Linked DNA regions of Homo sapiens: regions 2 and 3 are each linked to region 1. Evidence: fine-mapped expression QTL. A gene starts in region 1. Each other region holds a variant in brackets. All regions are shown on one strand. Distances are between the middles of the regions. Region 1 holds the start of STK10 (serine/threonine kinase 10). Region 2 overlaps STK10 (serine/threonine kinase 10). Region 3 overlaps STK10 (serine/threonine kinase 10).

Region 1 (7,041 bases):
TGTAGAAACAGGGTCTCACTTTATAGCTCTGGCTGGTATGGAACTCCTGGGCTCAAGTGATCCTCCCACCTCAGCCTCCCAAAGTGCTGGAATTACAGGTGTAAGCCACTGTGCCTGGCTTACAATTTTCTTTTACTGTCCTTATCTAGTAATAGTAAAACTCATCTTATAAAATAAATTGGCAGATTTCCTTCATTTTCTATCTTTTAAAATAATTTATATAAAGAAAGAAATTATTTGTAAAACCACACAGACTGATGTCTTTCACCAAGAACAAGCTTTTGATTCTTGATTTTTGTGGTTGTTGTTTTTTGGGTTTTTGTTTGTTTGTTTTTGTTTAGAGACAGAGTCTCACTGTGTTGCCCAGGCTCGAGTGCAGTGGTGTGATCTCGGCTCACTGCAACCTCCGTCTCCTAGGTTGAAGGGATTCTTGTGCCTGAGTCTCATGAGTAGTTGGGACCACAGGCACGCACCACCACACCCGACTAATTTTTGTATTTTTAGTAGAGACAGAGTTTCACCATGTTGCCCAGGCTGGTCTCGAACTCCTGACCTCAGGTGATTCACCCGCCTCAGCCTCCCAACGTGCTGGGATTACAGGCATGAGCCACTGTGCCCGGCCTGATTCTTGATTTGATTTCTTTATTGGTTACTAGTTTATTTAGGTTTTTATTTCTTATTGAAATTATCTTTTACCTATCATTTATATTTTCTTCTCAATAATTACCCATTTTATGTAAATTAAAACATTTATTCACATAAATTTGTCTAAAATATCACTTTATGATTATCAAAATTTCTACAGTATCTAATCTGATGTTCTCTTTTCATTTTTTATTTCTTCCAGTGAATATTTCTTTCTTGCACCAATTTTTTTTTTTTCTTTTCTTTTTTTTTTTGAGACGGAGTCTTGCTCTGTTGCTCAGGCTAGATGGAGTGCAATGGTACGATCTCGGCTCACTGCAACCTCCATCTTCTGGGTTCAAGTGATTCTTCTGCCTCAGCCTCCCAAGTAGCTTGGGTTACAGGCGTGCACCACCCCGCCCGGCTAAGTTTTGTATTTTTCGTAGAGCTGGGGTTTTGCCATGTTGGCCAGGCTGGTCTTGAACTCCTAACCTCAGGTGATCCACCCAGCTTGGCCTCCCAAAATGCTGGGATTACAGGTGTGAGCCACCGTGCCCGACCCTTTTTTTCTTTTTCTTTGACTAGTCTTGTCTATTAGTTATTTCAAAGAAGTAGCTTTGATTCTATTGAACCTCAATGTATTTCTTACAATGCTATTGAGGTATAATTTACACATAAAATTCATCCATTTACAAAAATGAAAGTTTAAAATTCAATTATTTTTGGCAAATTTACCAAATTATGAAATTGTCACCATTGTGCAGTTTTAGGACATTTTCATCACCCCAATTAGACTGTTTATTGTTCATGTACAGTTAATTCCCATTTCACACCCAGCTCCAGGCAACCATTAATCTACTTTCTGTCTGTATGGATTTGCCTTTTCCAGACATTTCATATAAATGGAAATTTATAGAACACAGGGCCTTTTGTGTCTGGCTTCTTTGACTTAGTGTTATTGAATGAATGAACCTCTCCGTTTTTCTTTCCCTTCCTTCCTCCCTCCCTCCCTTCCTTCCTTCCCTCCCTCCCTCCCTCTTTCTCTCTCCTTCTCTTCCTTTCCTTTTTCTTTCTCTCTTTCTTCCTTTCCTTTCCCTTTCTCTTTCTTTCTTTCTCTCTTTCTCTCTTTCCTTTCTCTCTTTCTTCCTTTCCTTTCCCTTTCTCTTTCTTTCTTTCTCTCTTTCTCTCTTTCCTTTCTCTCTCTCTTTCTCTCGCTTGCTTGCTTTTCTGGAGCTCTCAGAGCTGGTCAGAGCCCTCCAGGCCTACAGCTTTCGTGGAGTCAGAGCCTTCATCTCCTAGTATGGAAGCAACCCTCTTGGTCTCCCCACCCGCTTCGTACAGTTGGCCAAATGGTCTGAAACAAATGAAAGACCTGCCTTTCAGCATGTTTTGGGAGGTTCAGACAGCGCCTGACTCAATGAGAACGGTCAGCGACGAGCGGCGTTTCCTTCTTTTAAAGACCCTCTACAATTCCAGGCACTCCTGCAGCTGTGGAAACATTCCGAACGGCTTAGCAACCAGGACACCCTCTGCGCCGACCACTACCAGCATCGCAGGCTTCTTGAGCTGGCTTTCCCAGTGGAAAACCATGCTTGGTGTTTGCACACTGTTCAAAGGATGTTTTCGAACAAAGCACCGAGGAAGGGGCGAAAACACCTCAACACAGCCGTTCTCTGGGGTTGGAGCTATTGAACTGTGACATTTGCGAAGACTCAACTTGTTTATGACACGGTCCAAATAATAACCCTTGCAGACTGCCCGCCCCCCCCCCCCACCCCCAGCACTCTCCTTAGATTCAGGTAAAAGCATGTTATAACCGTCTATAGGACAAACAGGCAACAGTAGCAGTGAAGTGACTCAAGTAGCCAGGATCGAGAATGAAGGTGCTCAAAGAAGACTTTAGTTTGATCTGTATGTAGTGCGCTCATCTTTTTTGAAACTAGGAAATTAAAAATTAGAATAAAGTTTTTATTTAATATGCAAATACATCCGCAAACCCATCAGGAAACATAAGAGAAATCAGTGCCAAAGGAGCTCTTTCTCCCAGCCCTCTAATCCTGGCAGGTTTGTGGATCGTGGACGGGGAGCCCCTGGAAAGGACCGCGCCGGGAAGCCGGGCCCTGCAGGGACTGGCCGCGGCTGCACCGGCGTTGCCCGTCGCACACTAGGAGGCAGCACCGCGCCGAGGAACCCGCAGCAGACGGGCAGCCAGCGTGTGTGCCTGGGGCGAGTGCCCTCGCCTGCCGGCGTCCCCATCGGAAAAGTGGGGGCGAGGGCAGCCTAGCGGAATAGCTGCGGGAGGATTAAATGAACGAGTGCAGGTTCACCTTCTGGGCGCTGACAACGATCCGTGGGCTCTCGCGAAATGCCAAGTCGCCGTCCCGCTTGCTCCCATAAAAGTTTTGGGAGCCACGCGGCGCGGCGGGCGGGCTCCTGAGTCCATGAGCGGTCCCACCGAGCGGTCCCCGAAGCTTCCCCAAAGCCCAGCCCGCGGCTCGCGGAGCGTGGTGTGGGGGGACTACAGTTTCCAGAGTGCCCTGCGGCGACGGGCGGAGCCGGGGAGCGCCCGCAGCCAATTAGGGGGTCCCGGGGCTCTGCCGGGGAGCGGCGGGTGGAGCCGGGCCGGTGGGCGGGCGCGGGGACGGTCCCCTGGAACGGGTCCGAGGCTCTCGCAGGCAGGGCTGGGCCGGGCAGGAGCTGCGAGGCCGGCACAAGGGAGGCGGCCCTGGGGACCTGACAGGGCGGGGGCGGGGGCGGGCACGCCGCCGCCTGCGCGGTTCCGGGTGCTCCCGGCGCGGCGCTGCCCAGGGCACACTTGACCGAGGTCGGGCTGCGGGGAAAGGCGGGTCTGGGGAGAACCCCGAGAGACGCGGCGTCCTCCAACTCCTCCTCCTTCTCCTCGCGGCCGCCGAAGCCACAGCCCGAGCCCGAGCCCGAGCCCGAGCCGGCGCCACCGCGCCCCCGGCCATGGCTTTTGCCAATTTCCGCCGCATCCTGCGCCTGTCTACCTTCGAGAAGAGAAAGTCCCGCGAATATGAGCACGTCCGCCGCGACCTGGACCCCAACGAGGTGTGGGAGATCGTGGGCGAGCTGGGCGACGGCGCCTTCGGCAAGGTTTACAAGGTGAGGGCGCTGAGGTGGGTGGCCGGACGCGCGTCGAGGGGCTCCGGAAGGAAGGGATGCCTGAGCCGGACCCGGCCAGCCTGGCTCCGGCTCCGAGGGCTGCCCGGCGCTGAATTCGGGGTCCCTGGCCCTCATCCCGATGACTCTTGTTTTTTGGGGGGAACATCACTCGGCCCGGCCGAGTCCCTGCGCTCTGGGCGCCCCCTCCGGGCACGGTTGCCGCCCCCACCCTAGCCCTGTTTCGGAGCACTTCCTGTGTGTCCTGCACTGCGCTCGGCGCCGCACGGGGAGACAAAGGGGCGTTGACAGGACCTCAGCATCCGAGAGGGCCACTCGAGGGACCTTCCAGGGACGTTCCGTAAAACGGCGATACGGGCACACTTTTTTTTTTAAGAGAGACCACAGATGCTGTGGGAATATCGAGGCGATGTGGACCGAGAAACTCGGCTGCGCTTGGACGGGTTGGGAGCTAGGGACACATCTGAAGATGAGCCAGAGACAGGGAAGTGGGGTGGGCGAGGGGTGGCCCATGGACTGAGAGGTGGGGCTTGGAAAGGTGGGTTGGGGCTGGTCAGAGGGGGAGGTCAGGATCTGGTGAATGCTGAGCCTGGGGGAACAGATTTGATTCCGTCGGTCTGAGTCACAGCTGGGGAGTCTCCCAGCCTGCAGTCACCTCTCCCCTAGAGGAAGACGCGGCAGAGAGCTTTTGTGGAGTGGGTGGGGCAGAGCTGATTGAGTCTAGAGAAGTGTGGCAGCAGGACGTTGGTTTCTGCTCCTGGGAGCTAATTCTGAGGTGGTGAGTTGTTTTAGGGAGCCAACACCTACAGCTTGACTCCCCCCTTTCCCCTAAGAAAATTTTTACTGGGAGACGCCCACTTGTTAAATTGGTGTATACCTCCAGGAGAGCACCTCTCTTCTAAGCCACTATCCTCCTCCTTGGGGCTCCTGTAGCTTGTAGGGCACTCTGACCCTAGGATTGCCGTTCTATGAGGCTGGACCACAGAGAAGGCTTCTCCAGGCCTTCTCCTCTGACTTGGAAGTGGTCTATCGCCTAGTTACCGAAGTAGTTCCTAGATGACCGGTGTTATAATAGCATCATTTGGGAGCTTGTCAGAAGTGAACAATCTCATGCCCAGCCCCGACCTGCTGAATTAGAGTCTACGTTTTAATAAGATCCCAGGTGATTCCTAAGCAAATAGGTTTGAGAAGTACTGCCCTAGAGGCTTGGAGTGGTGGCGTTTTTTCTTTTTTCTTTTCTTTTTTTTGAGACAGGGTTTCCCTCTGTTGCTCAGTCTGGAGTGCAGTGGCCCGATCTCGGCTCACTGCAACCTCTGCCTCCTGGGCTCAAGCAATTCTCCTGCCTCAGCCTTCGGAGTAGCTAGGTCTACAGGTGCACACCACAGCCCGGCTAATTTTTGTATTTTTTGTAGACTTGGGGTTTCGCCACGTAGCCCAGGCTTGTCATGAACTCCTGAGCTCATGAAATCAGCTCGTTTCAGCCTCCCAAAGTGTTGGGATTACAGCGGTGAGCCACCCTGCCTGACCTGGAGCGGTGGCAATTTTGAGACCAACCAGGCCCACTCAGTGTCTTTTTTTATTTTTATTTTTTGTGAGACGGAGTCTCACTCTATTGCCCAAGCTGGAGTGCGGTGGTTTGATCTCGGCCCTCACTGCAACCTCCACTTCCTGGGTTCAAGCAATTCTCCTACCTCAGCCTCCCAAGTAGCTGGGATTGCAGGCACACACCACCATGCCTGGCTAATTTTTGTTTTTTTAGTAGAGACGGGGTTTCACCATGTTGTCTAAGCTGGTCTCGAACTCCTGACCTCAGTTGATCCACCCACCTCGGCCTCCCAAAGTGTTGGGATTACAGGCGTGAGCCACTGTGCCTGGCCTGGTGCCTGTTTTGTTTCCTTGCCACCTCCCCTCTGAGCCCACACTTCCTGTTATGGGGTAGGGAGAGGTCTTGTGATCCGAGAGGCAGTGCTTTTGGACTGCCCCGACTTGCTGTCCTCCTTTGCCTGAGGGCCTTGCCCATATTTGAGGGCAGCCAGCTCACCCTGTCCTCAGCACGTCTTTTCTTTACTCTCCTCAGAGCTGCATCTTCTTCCTGGTGGCACCAGAGAACGATCCTCAGCCTTGCAACTGTCTCTGGACACTGCCAGTGTCCTTGACTGCCTTAGACAGAGCCTGCTCCTGCAGCTGTGCTCTGACTACTGTGAGGGCAGCTGGACCCCTGTGGTCAGCTCACCACAGGACCCACTTTCTCCAGAAGGTTCAGTTGGTGTTTTTAGCGTATGCTAAACATATGGGTTTTTTGGGCCGGGCGTGGTGGCTCACGCCTGTAATCCTAGCACTTTGGGAGGCTGAAGCAGGCAGATCATGAGGTCAGGAAATTCAGACCATACTGGCCAACATGGTGAAACCCTGTCTCTACTAAAAATACAGAAATTAGCCGGGCATGGTGATGCATGCCCGTAATCCCAGCGTCTCAGGAGGCTGAGGCAAGAGAAACGTTTGAACCAGGGAGGTGGAGGGTGCAGTGAGCTGAGATAGCGCCACTGCACTCCAGCCTGGCGACAGAGCGAGACTCTGTCTCAAAAACAAAACAAAACAAAACAAACATATGGGCTTTTTTTTTTCTCCGTTAGGGGCTTTCAATTGCATTCTTGTCCCCTTCCCCGCAGTGTGTCCTGGCTTCACAGGGTTCATCTTCCTTTAAACTTAAACGCAGAACTTTGCTTTCATGCTGGTAAGATTTCCCCTTGTCATTTTCAGTTGTGTTTCCTCCTGCTTTAGTCCCTTAAGACTCCCCTGCTACTCTGAAAGTTTCATACAAAGGAACTCATCCGATCCACAATCGATACTGTCTCCTCTTGGTTCTCCAAAGCACGTGGAAAGTCAGTTTTTAAAAAAGTGACTCCAGGGCCAGGTGCTGTGGCTCACGCCTGTAATCCTAGCACTTCAGGAGGCCGAGGCGGGTGGATCACTTGAGGTTAGGAGTTTGAGACCAGCTGGGGCAACATGGTGAAACCCCACCTCTACTAAAAATAAAAAAATAAAAAAATTAGCCGGGTGTGGTGGCGCGTGCCCTATAATCCCAGCTACTCGGGAGGCTGAGGCAGGAGAATTGCTTGAACCCGTGAGGCGGAGGTTGCTGTGGGCTGAGATCATGCCGCTGCACTCGAGTCTGGGGGACAGAGGGAGACTCTGTCTCAAAAACAACAACAATAAAAACAAAAAGTGACTTTAATTCTCAAAGTTGTGAGCTGTCTCCACCACAGCCCTCTCCGC
Region 2 (7,041 bases), 75 kb after region 1:
CGGCTCACTGCAACCTCCACCTCCTCAGTTCAAGTGATTCTCCTGCCTCAGCCTCCTGAGTTGCTGGGACTATAGGCACCCACCACCACACCTGGCTAATTTTTGTATTTTTAGTAGAGACCGGGTTTCACCATGTTGGCCAGGCTGGTCTCGAGTTCCTGACCACAAGTGAACCACCCGCCTCGGCCTCCCAAAGTGCTGGGATTACAGGTGTGAACCACCCCGCCCGGCTCAAAACCTTCTTCTTTAAATGTCTCCTCTTTGTATTTTTAATGTTTTTATTTTTTTAACCAAAATAACACATACATGTGTCATCCCCTCACGTGTCTCCTTTTGCCATCCACCTGCAGAGACAAGCGCTTTGAGCTCTTCTCATGTGTACTTCTGCATCGCCAAATGATATGGCTACAATGCATTTTTTAAAGTAATGATTTTCGGCCAGGCATGGTGGCTCACGCCTGTAATCCCAGCACTTTGGGAGGCCGAGGTGGGTGGATCACCTGAGGTCAGGAGTTCAGGACCAGCCTGGCCAACATGGCGAAACCCCAATCTCTACTAAAAATACAAAAATTAGCCGGGCGTGGTGGCACACGCCTGTATTCCCAGCTACTCAGGAGGCTGAGACAGGAGAATCGCTTGAACCCAGGAGGCAGAGTTTGCAGTGAGCTGAGATTGCACCACTGCACTCCGGTCTGGGCAACAGAGTAAGACCCTGTTTCACGAAAACAAAAACAAAAACAAAAACAAAAAAACAAACAACACATAGTTGGTGCTCAATAAACAGTCACTTCCAGCATGACCACCACTTTAGCCTATGGTTAGTTACTTCAGCATCCCCAACTCCCAACCCCCATGCCCCGCCCAATGTGCTGGAGACTTGGCAGGTGGACCAGTCAGGAAGCCAACTGCCCATCTCTCACTGCTGCCTTCACCCAGCCCAGCATTGCTATTTCCTGCTACCAGCAGGCTGGGGGCCTGGTTCTTTCACTAGAGCTACCATGCACTGAGCCAGCATCTGATATGTGTTAACTCATTCCATTCTCAAAAGCCACTGATATCATCTTGCAGGATGGATTTGGGACCTAGCAAGACTGACTTATCCAAGGTCACATTGCCGATAAGAGGAACAACTGGGGTTCAAACCAAGGCAGCTGGGTCCAGAGCCTACGTGCTTAACCACTACCCTCTTGTCGCCTCTCTTAGTGGCAAATGATAAAAACCCACTTCCTAAGAGTTAAGGCAGACAGGAAAATGTGTACATCATGGAGCCAAATTGGAGAAGAAATACAGCTGGGTGGGCCTTAAAGTTAGTTGAAACCTGGAACATAAACGCTGCCAGGACCGTATCCCTGGCCCTTAACGCTGCCAGGACCGTATCCCTGGCCCTTGGCTTTCTGTGCATGTAGGTTCGGCTCCCAGACCAACCCTCTCCACCAAGCTCAGGATACCATCTAGTTTCACATTTCCCGGCATCATCTGCTGCTGCCTGAACCCGAACTCACCATTGGAGGCTTTGGCATCAATAATCCCAGGGGAGGGCTCTGACTGGCCCCGTTTGGCCCAGATAGTAATCCTTGGACCAATCAGTGAGGCCCAGGCAGGAGGGGGTCTCCCACAGGCCCGGCTTGTCTTCAGTCTCTGGCACGGAGGGTGGGGTCACGTGACAACACGGAAGTAGCCCTCGCCCCCGCAATGAGGCAGTGTGGTGGGTGGGGAGATGGTTTTTCAGAGGAAGGGAGGATTCGGACTGGCCAGAAAAAAAAATTGCGGTCTACCTACCCTGCCCAGCCTGTGAGAATCGCACAGGCCCAGCAGAGGGGAAGTAAGTGAGGCAGAAGCTTGAGGGATGGGAAGCAACAAGAAAGGGCTGGGTTGGCGGTGAGTGCGTGGAGGGTGTCAGGAAGACAGTGCAGTGTGTTGCGAGGAGGAGAGTCAGTGAAGGCCGAAGGTGGGGGGTCAAACCGGAAGACGAAGCCCTTATCAAATGGGCACGCGTCTCTAGGTTCCTAAAAAACGGAAGAAAATAAAAATAACCGGCCGGGTGCGGTGGCTCACGCCTGTAATCCCAGCACTTTGGGAGGCCGAGGCGGGCGGATCACGAGGTCAGGAGATCAAGACCATCCTGGCTAACACGGTGAAATCCCATCTCTACTAAAAATACAAAAAAATTAGCCAGGCATGGTGGCGGGCGCCTGTAGTCCCAGCTACTCGGGAGGCTGAGGTAGGAGAATGGCGTGAACCCGGGAGGCGGAGCTTGCAGTGAGCCGAGATTGCGCCACTGCACTCCAGCCTGGGCGACAGAGTGAGACTCCGTCTCAAAAAAAAAAAAAAAAAAAAAAAAAAATATATATATATATATATATATATAATTTTAATATACATAAATTTGGAGCTATACACAGCAAACCCGTAAATGTTTAGTTGTCAGTATTATAGTTTTTAATCTGAAAAATAATGAGTTTTTAATAAGCAACATGACTTTGGTAATCAGAAAACACACATACACACACACACACACACACACACACGAGAGTAGCTAGAGTCCTGTACACAATTTGGAATAAGACCCACAAAAAGGAGAATTAAGGTCCTTCCTAATCCTGCCAGAATAAACCACCACTCTCCGTGGGCTTCCCTCCAAGTCTTTTTTTGTCTGCAGAAAAGTCGGATCAGATAGTGGGAAAGAGCACAGCTGGGTGACCTTCTGTGCATTACTTAGTCTTTCTTAAGTTAAGCTTCCTTATCTGTAAAATGGGAGTCATAATTTTCCCTGCCTTAAAGGGTCATAGATATAAACGATGTGTGTAGGAATAGATATGCAGATGATATGCATAAGTTTCTTTGCACAGTGCTATGCATATGGTAAGTTCTCAGTAAATATTAGTTTTTCTTTTTTTTTTTTTTGAGATGGAGTTTTGCTTTTGTTGCCCAGGCTGGAGTGCAATGGCACGATCTTAGCTCTCCACAACCGCTGCCTCCTGGGTTCAAGCGATTCTCTTGCATCAGCCTCCTGAGCAGCTGGGATTACAGGCATGTGCCACCACGCCTGGCTAATTTCGTATTTTTAGTAGAGAGGGGATTTTTCCATGTTGGTTTTTGTCTCGAACTCCTGACCTCAGGTGATCTGCCTGCCTCAGCCTCCCAAAGTGCTGGGATTACAGGCATGAGCCACCGTGTCCGGTGACAATATTAGTTTTTATAAGATAAACTAGGATTATTATATATATATACAGTTTCCTAGTCTGGTTTTTAACATTGAATATCAGCGTATTCCTCCATATCCTTAAAGATTCCTCAGAAACATGATTATTTTCGTGTTTTTCTTGTACCCATCACAGGCACAAAATGTAATTTACCTATCAGAGCCCTGAGGAAAGCCCTGAATTGGATACTTGGGTTTCTCATGAGGTTTATCATCTTTACGAAATCATGCAGTGATGAGTGTGCTTGTTCATGGATCTTTGCGTCTCTTTCTGTAACATACCTTGAAGAGGAATTCTCAGAAGCAGAGTGCTGGGTGTGTGCAGTGAGTTGGGGTTTTGTTCATCCTGCAGCCGGCATGCCCTCCGTGCTGGTCATACCAGTTGACACCCCCCCCAGTGCAGTGTGCAATTCTCTTTTCACCACATCCTGG[C/T]CCCTACTGGGTTTTACTTAATAGAGAAAAAACAAAAAAACCCACAAAACCAAAAAACTTTGCTACATATGCATTTCAGTTTTTTAAACCATAGAAACAATACACTCTATCAAAAACATTTTAAAGAACAAAAGTGGGTCGGGCGCGTTGGCTCATGCCTGTAATCCTAGCACTTTGGGAGGCCGAGGCAGGTGGATCACCTGAGGTCGGGATTTTGAGACCAGCCTGACCAACATGATGAAACCCCCCGTCTCTACTAAAAATACAAAATTAGCCGGGCGTGGTGGCGCATGCCTGTAATCCCAGCTGCTTGGGAGGCTGAGGCAGGAGAATTGCTTGAACCCGGAAGGTGGAGGTTGCAGTGAGCCGAGATCGTGCCATTGCACTCCAGCCTGGGCAACAAGAATGAAACTCCATCTGAAAAAAAAAGAATAAAAGTGTGTAAAGTGAAAAATGTAGGGTCCTGGCCGGGTGCAGTGGCTCACACCTGTAATCCCAGCACTTTGGGAGGCCGAGGTGGGCGGATCATGAGGTCAGGAGATCGAGACCATCCTGGCTAACATGGTGAAACCCCGTCTCTACTAAAAAAAAAAAAATTAGCCGGGCATGGTGGCAGGTGCCTGTAGTGCCAGCTACTTGGGAGGCTGAGGCAGGAGAATGGCGTGAACCCAGGAGGTGGAGCTTGCAGTGAGCGAAGATCACACCACTGCACTCCAGCCTGGGTGACATGCGAGACTCTGTCTCAAAAAAAAAAAAAAAAAAAAAAAGTAAGGTCCCTTCTGTGCACTGCCCCCACCAAAATCCCACTTCCAGGGAGATGAACATTAAGTTTGATGTGCAGACTTCCAGACCGGTGTGTGTGTGTGTGTATGCACATGCGTGCAGACATGTACACACAAGATGCATATATTATTCCTTTAAAGATAATCTTCTACTGGAGTACCTGCACTTGGATCATTTCTGGAATCATGCTACACATTTTATAAGACTCATCAGTCAGTCAGCAACATGTTTGGGACATGTATTAATGTATTAGAGATACACTTCCAAGTTAGTCCATACAAATACAGCCTCATTCTTTTTAAGAGCTGCATGTTATTTCATAGCTGGGGTGAACCACAACTTATCTAACCATTCAGCAATGAAGCTCCAGCAACACTTTGGATGATTTCCAATTTTCCATTCTTTTTGGCTGTTGCTTTTATAAGCATCCATATATATTATAGATCTGGTTTTAGAGATGGATTTCTACAAATAGAATTGCTGGCAAACAAGTTTTTAAAACCCAGTTTTATTTTTTACATATATGAGTAAAGGCATTTTAGCAAATTCTGTCTCTTTATTTATTTATGAGCATGCTCATTCGATAAACCTGTTGAGTGCTTCCTGCTCCAGATAACGTGCCAGGGATACAACTGTGGCCACAGCAGAAATGATCTCTTTCTTTATGGAAATTACAGCGGAGAAAGGGAGATTTCCCTTATCTCCGCCGCCCTTGTCTCTAATACATTTTAAAATGGGAGGAGAAGGGGGAGTGTTTTCATCAGAAGAGACTGCATGGTGAAAATCCCTTTTGAATTGCTCAAGGGCAGCCATCAGCTATCAAGGGACACTCCCTTATAAACTCTGCGGAGGGAGCAAACAGGCTCAGTTCTCTGGGCTGCAAGGTGGGGCTGCCCCACTCTCCCATCTGGGCCCCATCGTGTGGGGCAGAAGGGGAAGTAGCAGCTACCCAAAGAGCTGGCTGGTGCGTGCCTGAGGGAGGCCCTGGGGACCTACGGTGTGTCATTGCACGTTGGTGGTTTCTGTTTCTCGTCTCTCTTCTCAGGAAGGGATCGGCAGGGCCTGTGGTCGGGGAGTGGCCACCTTTTGGGATCCTCACCCTGGGCCTGAGAGGCAGTCACTGTTCCCAAAAGGTTTCCTGGGATGGGATGATGTGCCAGCCCTTAGTGGTGTTTGCGAGGGAGCCAGGCCCACAGGGGGGCCTGGCTGACCCAGCAGGAAGGTGGGGCCAGCTTCCCATTCTTACCCTGGAGGCCCAGGGGAGCCGCCTGCCAGAGTCATCAGCAGAGCCAGGCTCTACCTGGGTTTCCTGCTTCTGCACCTCACTTGCAGCACCTGTTGGTCCCACTTCAGGAGGCTGAGGGCCCCCTGTCCCCTCTTGCTGGCCAGACTGTCCCCTGATATAGCAACTGCTGTCCAGTTAGCACTAACCGGGGCTCAGAAGCCAGCTTTCCTGACCACTCCCAGGAGGTGCCGGGGGGTCTTAGTTCAGCCTCAGCCTTGCCCCAGCCTGAAAAAGGCTGGACTGGCTCATGGGCCGGTGAAAGAATCACCATCTTCTCGCTTTTGCCACGAGTGGACCTTGCATCACAGTGCTTTGCGTTTGTCATTTAATCCTCAGGAAAACCTGCGCAATGGTTCTGTGCTATCACCCCCGTGTCACAGATGGGGAAACTGAGGCTCAGAGGCTTTGTAACTGCCCTGCCCGTCTCCTGCCTTATCTGCTTCCACCCCCGGCCCCCTCCTTCCGGCCAGGCTGTGTCCTGTCCCCGCTGGTCCCTCCAGCCTGCTGTTTCCTGCCTCCCAGTCTGTTTGCAGTTTTCTCTGCCTGGAAATACCTCCCCCAGATCCTGAGTTTGTGTCTAAAGTAGCTCCCCACCCTGCACCCCAGCACTGTGTTCTTCTCCCTGCCTTCTCAGCCCTGGGCCCTTCTCGCTGCCAGGCATTCCGGGGGTTTTGCCAGGTGCCTGTCGCCACCACGGGAATAACATGTGGCATGTCAGGCAGGACTTGGTTGCTTTCATCTCTGTGCCTAGAACAGTGTCGGGCACATAATAGATGTGCAGTTAGTGTATGCTGAATAAAACTGTCCTTCCTCCAAAGCCCCCAGCCCTCCCTCCATGACCGTCCCCTCGAGGTCACACCCCCTACTGTGCACTCTTGAGTAGCCCCGGTCCTGTCTTCCCAACACTTTCCATGTTAGGAGTAGATGTTTGTTTATTTGCTTACTCTCTGCTCCCCCAACTAAACTGTGGATTCCCCGAGGGTCCTCATTGTATTCTCTGATCCCGGCTAGTGTCTCGCTCCTGATGGAGCCTGGTGAGCACCTGAATGAATGGGTGAGTGGACAGTGAAGCAGAAGAGCAGAGGCTGGAACCAAGTTCTCCCGTATTCAGGCCCAGCCTCTTGGCATTGTGCTGCCTCCTTGTTTCACGTTGCAAGTCTGAAAGGAGCTCCTGGATACAGCTCATTTCAAGACCAGGCACTGGTGCCCGGGGTGGCCTGAAGTTGTCATAATGCTGCAGCTTCTTGGGATGAATCGTCCAAAGGCAGCCATCATCTAGCAGGGGACACCCCTCATAAATTCCATTCAGGGAGTTTCAAATGGAGCATCCCGGGTTCTC
Region 3 (7,041 bases), 22 kb after region 1:
ACTCACTCTCCCATGCATCTGTCCATCCTTCCATTCATCTGCCCATCCACCCACCCTCCCATTCTTCTGCCCACCCATCCATTCACCCAACCTCTCATCCATTCACCATCCCACTTAACTCATTTTCCCATCCATTCCTCCAGCCCCTACCTCCCATCCGTTCACTCCTCCATGTGCTTGTCTGCCCACCTATCTTCCCGTTCACTCCCACTCCCACTGTCCCATCTACCCACTGGCTCTTCTGTGCCAGGCTCTGTAGGGTAGACTGAGAGGAGTCAGGTGGGCTGAGCCTTTCAGAGATCACAGCCAGGTCAGAGAATCTGTGATGCAGATGCCCAGGGGACAGGGCAGTCTGCGATGAAAACCTTAACAAGGTGCAAAGAGATTCTAGTCGGGGAGGTGGGCTGGGGTTCTGGGGAAGATGTCATGAGCTAGGCTGGGGTTGAGTTCGATTTTGCTGGCTGATTAAACGCAGGTAGGGAGGAGGTGTTCTCTGTGGAGGAGGGAGCATGAAGAGGGCTGGGAAGTAGGCAGCAGGCACGGGGCTGAGTGAGAGGGAATGGCGGGACCCTGGGGAAGTGGGCAGGGGCAGGTCATGAGGGTGTGAGTGCTGGGCCAGGGAGCTCCTGCGTTAGCTTGTCAGCAGCTAGGAGCCCTTGAGGGTTCACCCTGAGTGTTTCTGGTTGAAGGCCACGGAGGGAAAGAGGGGAAGGAGGGCTGGCACACTGAGCAGCTGGGCGGGAGACCCCTGGCATGACAACTTTGGTGGGCTGCTGAGGGCACAGAGCACTGGGCGGAGAGCCAGAGCTGAGCTCCAGGCCTGCCAGTGCCTCCTAGCTATGTGACCTGGGACAAGTCAGTTTCTCTGCCTGGGCCTCCCTTTTCTCTTCCATAAAAGGCGATGGTGGTACCTCTGTGTACTTCATGGGCCTGTGCTGGAGAAAGGCGGGCTGCTCGTTGCCCTGCAGCAAGAGACCATAAGAGGGTTTGACAGGCCTTTTTCATCCTGAGCCCGCAAGGACCTGGGCCTCCCAAGGCCCAGGCCCGTGGTGCATAAGGCTCCTGTCCTCTGCTGACTCACGCCTGCCAGCCAGGGGCCTTAGTGGGCTCTAAACTCAAGCCCATGTCAGCTGGCCACCCCGGCTCTGTGTCTGCTGTCCTCAGGTCACCCCCTTTGGCTTTATGTTGGGCCCTTTTCCTGCACATAGTCAGTTCTGCTGTGACCGTGGTTTTCTCTGGGGCCAGATTTTCTCTCTCCTAAATAGAGTCGCAGCCCTTCCTGCGATTGACCGCCTTCATCACCATGCAAAGATTAACTGTGTTCAGGCAGGGACAGCACAGCTGTACATTGTGTGACACCCAGACCAAGCCCTGCTTTGGTTCCAGTGGCCTGAACCATATTTGATACATGCCTGGCACGGCCGTCCAGAATAAAGACAGGGAAATAGGAACCCTGAGCCCTGACTGCTCCGTCCTTTGGCTCTGACCCACACCCAGGCTTTTCATCCGACAGGTCAGCTGGGAGCCTTCCCTCACACCTGCCACTCAGCCAGGTTGCTAGGAGACTTCCGTAGCAAATGATCATTGGGTGGGGTTCCTCTGCTGATTCCTTGCACATGTCCCCTTTTGCTTCCTAGAAAAAGAAACCCATGTTTCAGAATCTGGGTCTGGGACAGTGGAGTGAGTTTTAGATGCTCCCTTACCTCCGAAGAGGCATTTTCTGCCAGAGAGGGCTGGGGGTGAACTTTCTACAGTGATCGAAGTGTTCTGTATGTACCTGCTCTGTTCAATACGGTAGCCACAGTGTGGTGGCACGTGAAATGTGGCTAATGCAACTGAGGAACTAAATTTTTGCTTCATATCTATTAATTTAAATAGCCACGTGCGGCTAGTAGCTACTGTATCAGACAGTGCAGCTCATGTGGGTTCCGAAAGAACGAGGGTGTCTGTCTCTGGAACGTGTAAGGCAAGCTCAGATGAAGTGGTCTCTCTCTATGTGGGAGGCTTATTTGCACCAGTCCCAGTCTGCCCTCGCTGGGACCCCTGTGGATAATTGCCAGATGTCACTGGGTGAAAATCATCTTTATAAATCGCTTGACTTCATTATGCTGTGTTTTAGCTCGTCCCTGTCCATAGGCACATGCAGTTTTCCCAAAGGAAAATTGTAGCCTAGTTACAATTTCATTATCCTATTTTGTTATTTACTATTATGGCTTAAGGATTTTTTCTCATTACTGTATTATCTTCTTGTTTATCATTTAAGGGTTACTTAATATCCCATTAAGTTAATTTAACCATTGTCTTTAGTGATTTCACCTTTTTTCTATTATTATGGACTAATATAAACTGAACATGATCCTAGTACATTTCTTTTGTTGCCTTTCTTTTTTTTCTTTTTTTTTTTTTGAGACAGATTCTTGCTCTGTTCCCAGGCTGGAGTGCAGTGGCACGATCTCAGCTCACCACAACCTCTGCCTCCCAGGTTCAAGTGATTCTTCTGCCCCAGCCTCCCGAGTAGCTGGGACTACAGGTGCGCGCCATCTTGCCTGGCTAATTTTTGTATTTTTAGTAGAGACGGGGTTTCACTATGTTGGTCAGCCTGGCCTCGAACTTCTGACTTTCTGATCCGCCCGCCTCAGCCCCTCAAAGTGCTGGGATTACAGGCACGAGCCACCGTGCCTGGCCTGTTGTCTTTTTAAAAGTATTTCCTGGCCTTAAATTCCCAGGAATGAGGGATAATAGGCTGAAAAGGTATTTTCATGGCTTTTAAAACCTATTTCCAATTGTTGTCTTTGAAAGATTGAATCAGTTTCTATTCTTGTCAGTAATGCGTTCACCCATTTTACTACATCGTCTCCAGTGCTGGGTTGTCACAATTGCATGTTTTTGCTAATTTATTAAGTGTAAAATGATCCTTTCCACTTTTTTGGAGGAAGATTCTTTTGGCAGAAGAATTCCATAGTTGCTGTTGGCCTCTGTCCTACGTGTTTTCCATGTAGGTCTCCAAATCCTAGATTATCAGTCAGCTCTTTGGTGAGGTCTCAGTGAATGTCACCTTATAGATTATGGTGGGCTTGGGAATGAAGGTGGCCCTTGATACACGCGTGTTGTGTGGTGAGGCACTCCTCTAGATATCTGTTCCTTGCTGGAACAGCCCCAGAGAGAGGGAACTCATCTCCTTCTTGGTGGCCAATGGCAGGAATCCAAAAGGGAATTTATCGGCTCATGTAACTGAGAAGTCTACGGGTAGAGTCCGCCTTCAGGTACAGCTGTCTCCAGGTGTTCCACAGAGCCAGTAGCACTCCATTTGTGAGCCCTGCTTCTGCCATCTTGGCCTCACCCTCCGGCAGCCACTCTGAAGGAGTGGCAAGATGGGCTACAAGACCCTTCAGCCTTTCATTCTACCGATTTAGCAGCGCCAGAGAAAGAAAAAGCTGCTGTCCTGATAACTTCAGCAAAAATGCAAACAACTGGCCGAGCGCAGTGGCTCACGCCTGTAATCCC[T/A]GCGCTTTGGGAGGCCAAGGTGGGCGGATCACTTGAGGTCGGGAGTTCGAGACCAGCCTGACCAACATGGAGAAACCCCGTCGCCACTAAAAATACAAAAACAGCCGGGCGTGGTGGCGCATGCCTGTAATCCCAGCTACTCGGGAGGCTGAGGCAGGAGAATCACTTGAATCCGGGAGGTGGAGGTTGCAGTGAGCCAAGATCGCACCATTGCACTCCAGCCTGGGCAACAAAGAGGGAAACTCCGTCTCAAAAAAAAAAAAAAAAGCAAACAACCAAAAACAAATTTAAAGAGCCACCCAGGCACGACCCTGTTGGCCTGCCTTGGGACCATGCCCAGGCATCTCTGAACCAATGACTGTGACAAGTTTCATTTTCAGGCGCCCTTGGTTCAGTCCTCTGATTAGCTGGGCCTGGGGTATGCCCCGGCCCAGGGTGAGGTCAACCCGCTATGAATCCCTTGGACTCAGAGCGAGGGAGAGGCAGTGTCCAAAAGCAACTAGAGTTTTGAATCCACAAGGGGGAATGGATGCTGGCCAAGTCCCCCACTGCTCCCCAGCCCCAGGGTCAATTTCCCAGCAGCTCCAGTGGCTCCCAGACCTGAGGTTAGGGGTGCCCCAGGAACAGGCCCCTCTAGGCTCTTTGCTCTTGTGTTCTCATTTACTCTTCTTGAGGCACACCTGTGTCACAGATGAGACAAGTGTCACAGATGGGACCCTGGTCTCTGCATTCGCCTTGGTGGACTCAGCTTCCTCATCTGCAGAGTTGGGTTGGGGAGCTGGAGTTAAGGAGGGGTGGCTAATGTTTTCTCACTGTCCTGAGGTCTGTGATATCAGCTATTTCCCGGGAAGCGGTGGGAGCAACACACTGATCAGTGGGCAGCCGGGAGGGAAGGGGAGGGCCTGGGGGTGGGTCCCCTGCTGGCCTTTGTGCAGCTGACTCTCAGGAAGCCCCCAGCCCCTGACTGGGCTGGCTGGGCCCCTTGGGTGAAGCAGTGTCCCCGGCTGGGAGGGTTATCCCCACCTCCTCCAGGCTGGGCCCCTTGCGGGTACAAGGGGGAGGATTGTTCCCACAGAGGTGCTTGGGCCAGAAAACACAAGTGGCCACTGTGTATCTGCTCGCAAGGGTGTGGGCTGAGGCGTTAGTCACTGCCAGCCAGCAGTGGAAGGCTGGGCCAAGGCTCCCCTCATCGTGCGCCGGAACCCGGCCTTGCTTCAGCCGCTGGGAGAGAGGGACATCGGAGGCCACAGACAGCCGCTTGTTCTTTATGCTATTCCTTGCCTGCCAACTCCCACGTGGGCCTCATCTACTTGGACCACCCTTAGCTTTCCAAGACTCACCCACTCCCTAAGACGGCTCTCATCAGAGCATGGAGAGAGTTGGACATCATTTCACCATCCATCCTCCCCCATATAGGGGGGAGACTGAGGCCCAGATGAGACTTTTGCAGAATATACAGGCATCTCTGGCAAAGCTGTCAGATACATGGAATTTGAACCCACATTGGCCGGAATTCAATTCCTAATCCTTTGAACCTGCTGTGTGACCTTGGGCCGGTGACTTCATCTCTCTAAGCATCGGTTTTCTTATATATAAAATAAAGCCCTTAATAGAGAGTTGTAAAAGTTAATTGAAGGGATCAACGGTCTTCTCATGCCCTCTCTCAGCTTTAGTGCCTCAGACCTAGTTTGATTTTCAGGCCCCCTTAGGGGCAGGATGGCTTTAGGCTGGAGGCTAGAAGTCAAGGAGAGCTTGCAGCAGTCTCAGCTGGCTCAGCAGTTGTTCTGAGAATGCATTTCATTGGCTGACTTGATCACATGCCAATTTTTTTTTTTTTTTTTTTTTTTTTAGATGGAGTTTCGCTCTTGTTGCCCGGGCTGGAGTGCAATGGCGCTATCTTGGCTCACTGCAACCTCCGCCTCCCGGGTTCAAGTGATTCTCCTGCCTCAGCCTCCCGAGTAGCTGGGATTACAGGCATGCACCATCACGCCCAGCTAATTTTTGTATTTTTAGTAGAGGTGGGGTTTCACCATGTTGGCCAGGCTGGTCTCAAACTCCTGACCTCAGGTGATCCACCTGCCTAGGCTTCCCAAAGTGCTGGGATCACAGGGGTCAGCCACCGCGCCTGGCCACGTGCCTATTCTTGAGCCAATCACTGTGGCCAGAGGGAGCGCGGTATTCTGATTGGCCAAGATGAGTCCCTACCCACTTCTAGATATTGTATTTTAGGGACTGGAAATGAGGGCAGGTTGGTCCCTGCTGAAGAAAAATCGGGGAAGGGTGAATTATGATATGGGAGGGCAGTGATTCCCTCATGCAAATTTTCCTAGGCAGAAAATTGCTTGTCTTGTTCATTAGAATTTAGCCAAGTAAATAGTGGTTGAATGAATGACTAGGGAATAAGCTGCTTCCTGGCAGTGTGGTGTAGTGAACACTAGGCCGGGAGTCAGGAGGCCACTGTGACAGCTCACAGTCCTGCTGGATTCCCAAGCCTCAGTCTGCTCACTTGGGAAACCGGCACCAAGGCTAACGCTGGCCTTAACGGTTTGTTGGCAGATGACATTCTGGCTGCCTGAGCACTCCTCAGCTGCCAGGCACTCCCTTGCTGTGAGTGGTTGCTATTGGCTGTGATTGTCATTCATCTTTAGCAAAGGGAGATAGAACAGGGAGCTCTGGACAGTCATCAGGAAAGGTCTTTGGGGGAAATGTTTTGGAGGTAAGGAAGGCTTGAATTGGATCCAGCCTTTACCCTCCACCCCCACTCGCTGTGTGACCTGAGGCACATCACCCCACCTCTCTGAATCTTTTTCCTCATCTGTAAACTGGCAATAATATTTGTCTTTAAGGGCTGGATGGAGGATGAAGTGAGAAATTCCGTTTAAGTCCTGTCCTGGAACACAGAGAGTGCTCAGTCAGTGTTAGCTGTTTTTATCATCAGCCGTATTACATCTCCTGTGGCCTCAAGGTGATGGATTGCTGCCTCAACGAGGCTTTGAAAGAATTTAATTTTGGCCAAGTCACTTTTTGGTCCGTGGTTCCTACTAACCTCTGTCTGGCAGGTTCTGGTCTCCATGGAATCTGAGTGAGGTGCTGGGTAGCGGGCGTGCCTTGTGTTGACACTGGTACTGGCTGAGGCCTGGCCGTCTGGTCAGTGCTGCCTTTCAGGATGGTGGGCAAGGCAAGGTTTGTGCACTCCTGGAAAATGGTCCCCACCTGGGCCTCCTCCACCATCAGGAGACAACATCCCTTTTCAGGAAACCCAGGTAAAGGTGACATGCGGCCTTCTTTGCCAGCTTTCAGGACTGAAAGATGAGTGATTGAAGGGGGGCCCTTGGCCAGCTCAGCATGGTCAAGGTGGTTGCCTTGGTCACTGGCCCTGGCTCTAGCCACTCCACTAAGCCTTCAACCTTCCTCTCAGGAAAGGAGCAGAGCTGGTGTAACCTCTCTTCTGGGTTTGGAGAGGAGGAAGGGGAGGAGTAGGAAGAGAAAGAGGAATGTGTGCAGAAGGAAAGGATTCTTTCCAGCCCTCTGGTGGGG

Evidence for each region. PIP is the estimated chance that this variant, and not a neighbour inherited with it, causes the effect.
Region 2: its variant is the best candidate, but not a certain one, in a credible set for the expression of STK10 in whole blood (TOPMed, PIP 0.89).
Region 3: its variant is the best candidate, but not a certain one, in a credible set for the expression of STK10 in whole blood (INTERVAL, PIP 0.50).

Annotation. Positions count from the first base shown.
Region 1 is chr5:172,184,593-172,191,633 of GRCh38, reverse strand. STK10 (serine/threonine kinase 10) reads left to right here and starts at 3,410. Exons shown (of 19, transcript NM_005990.4): 1 at 3,410-3,747. The coding sequence starts at 3,592. RefSeq lists enhancers at 2,650-3,425, 4,478-4,557, 5,218-5,267, 5,538-5,587, 6,628-6,677 and silencers at 3,098-3,457, 3,758-3,807, 3,938-4,017.
Region 2 is chr5:172,109,777-172,116,817 of GRCh38, reverse strand. All of the region lies in intron 4 of STK10 (serine/threonine kinase 10), which reads left to right. Among named protein-coding and RNA genes, the nearest start is that of STK10, 75 kb to the left of the region's middle. RefSeq lists enhancers at 1,221-1,721, 1,650-1,959, 5,261-5,730. The variant C/T (reference allele first, on the strand shown) is at 3,635.
Region 3 is chr5:172,162,524-172,169,564 of GRCh38, reverse strand. The region is part of intron 1 of STK10 (serine/threonine kinase 10); the gene reads left to right. Among named protein-coding and RNA genes, the nearest start is that of STK10, 22 kb to the left of the region's middle. RefSeq lists an enhancer at 4,089-5,068. The variant T/A (reference allele first, on the strand shown) is at 3,505.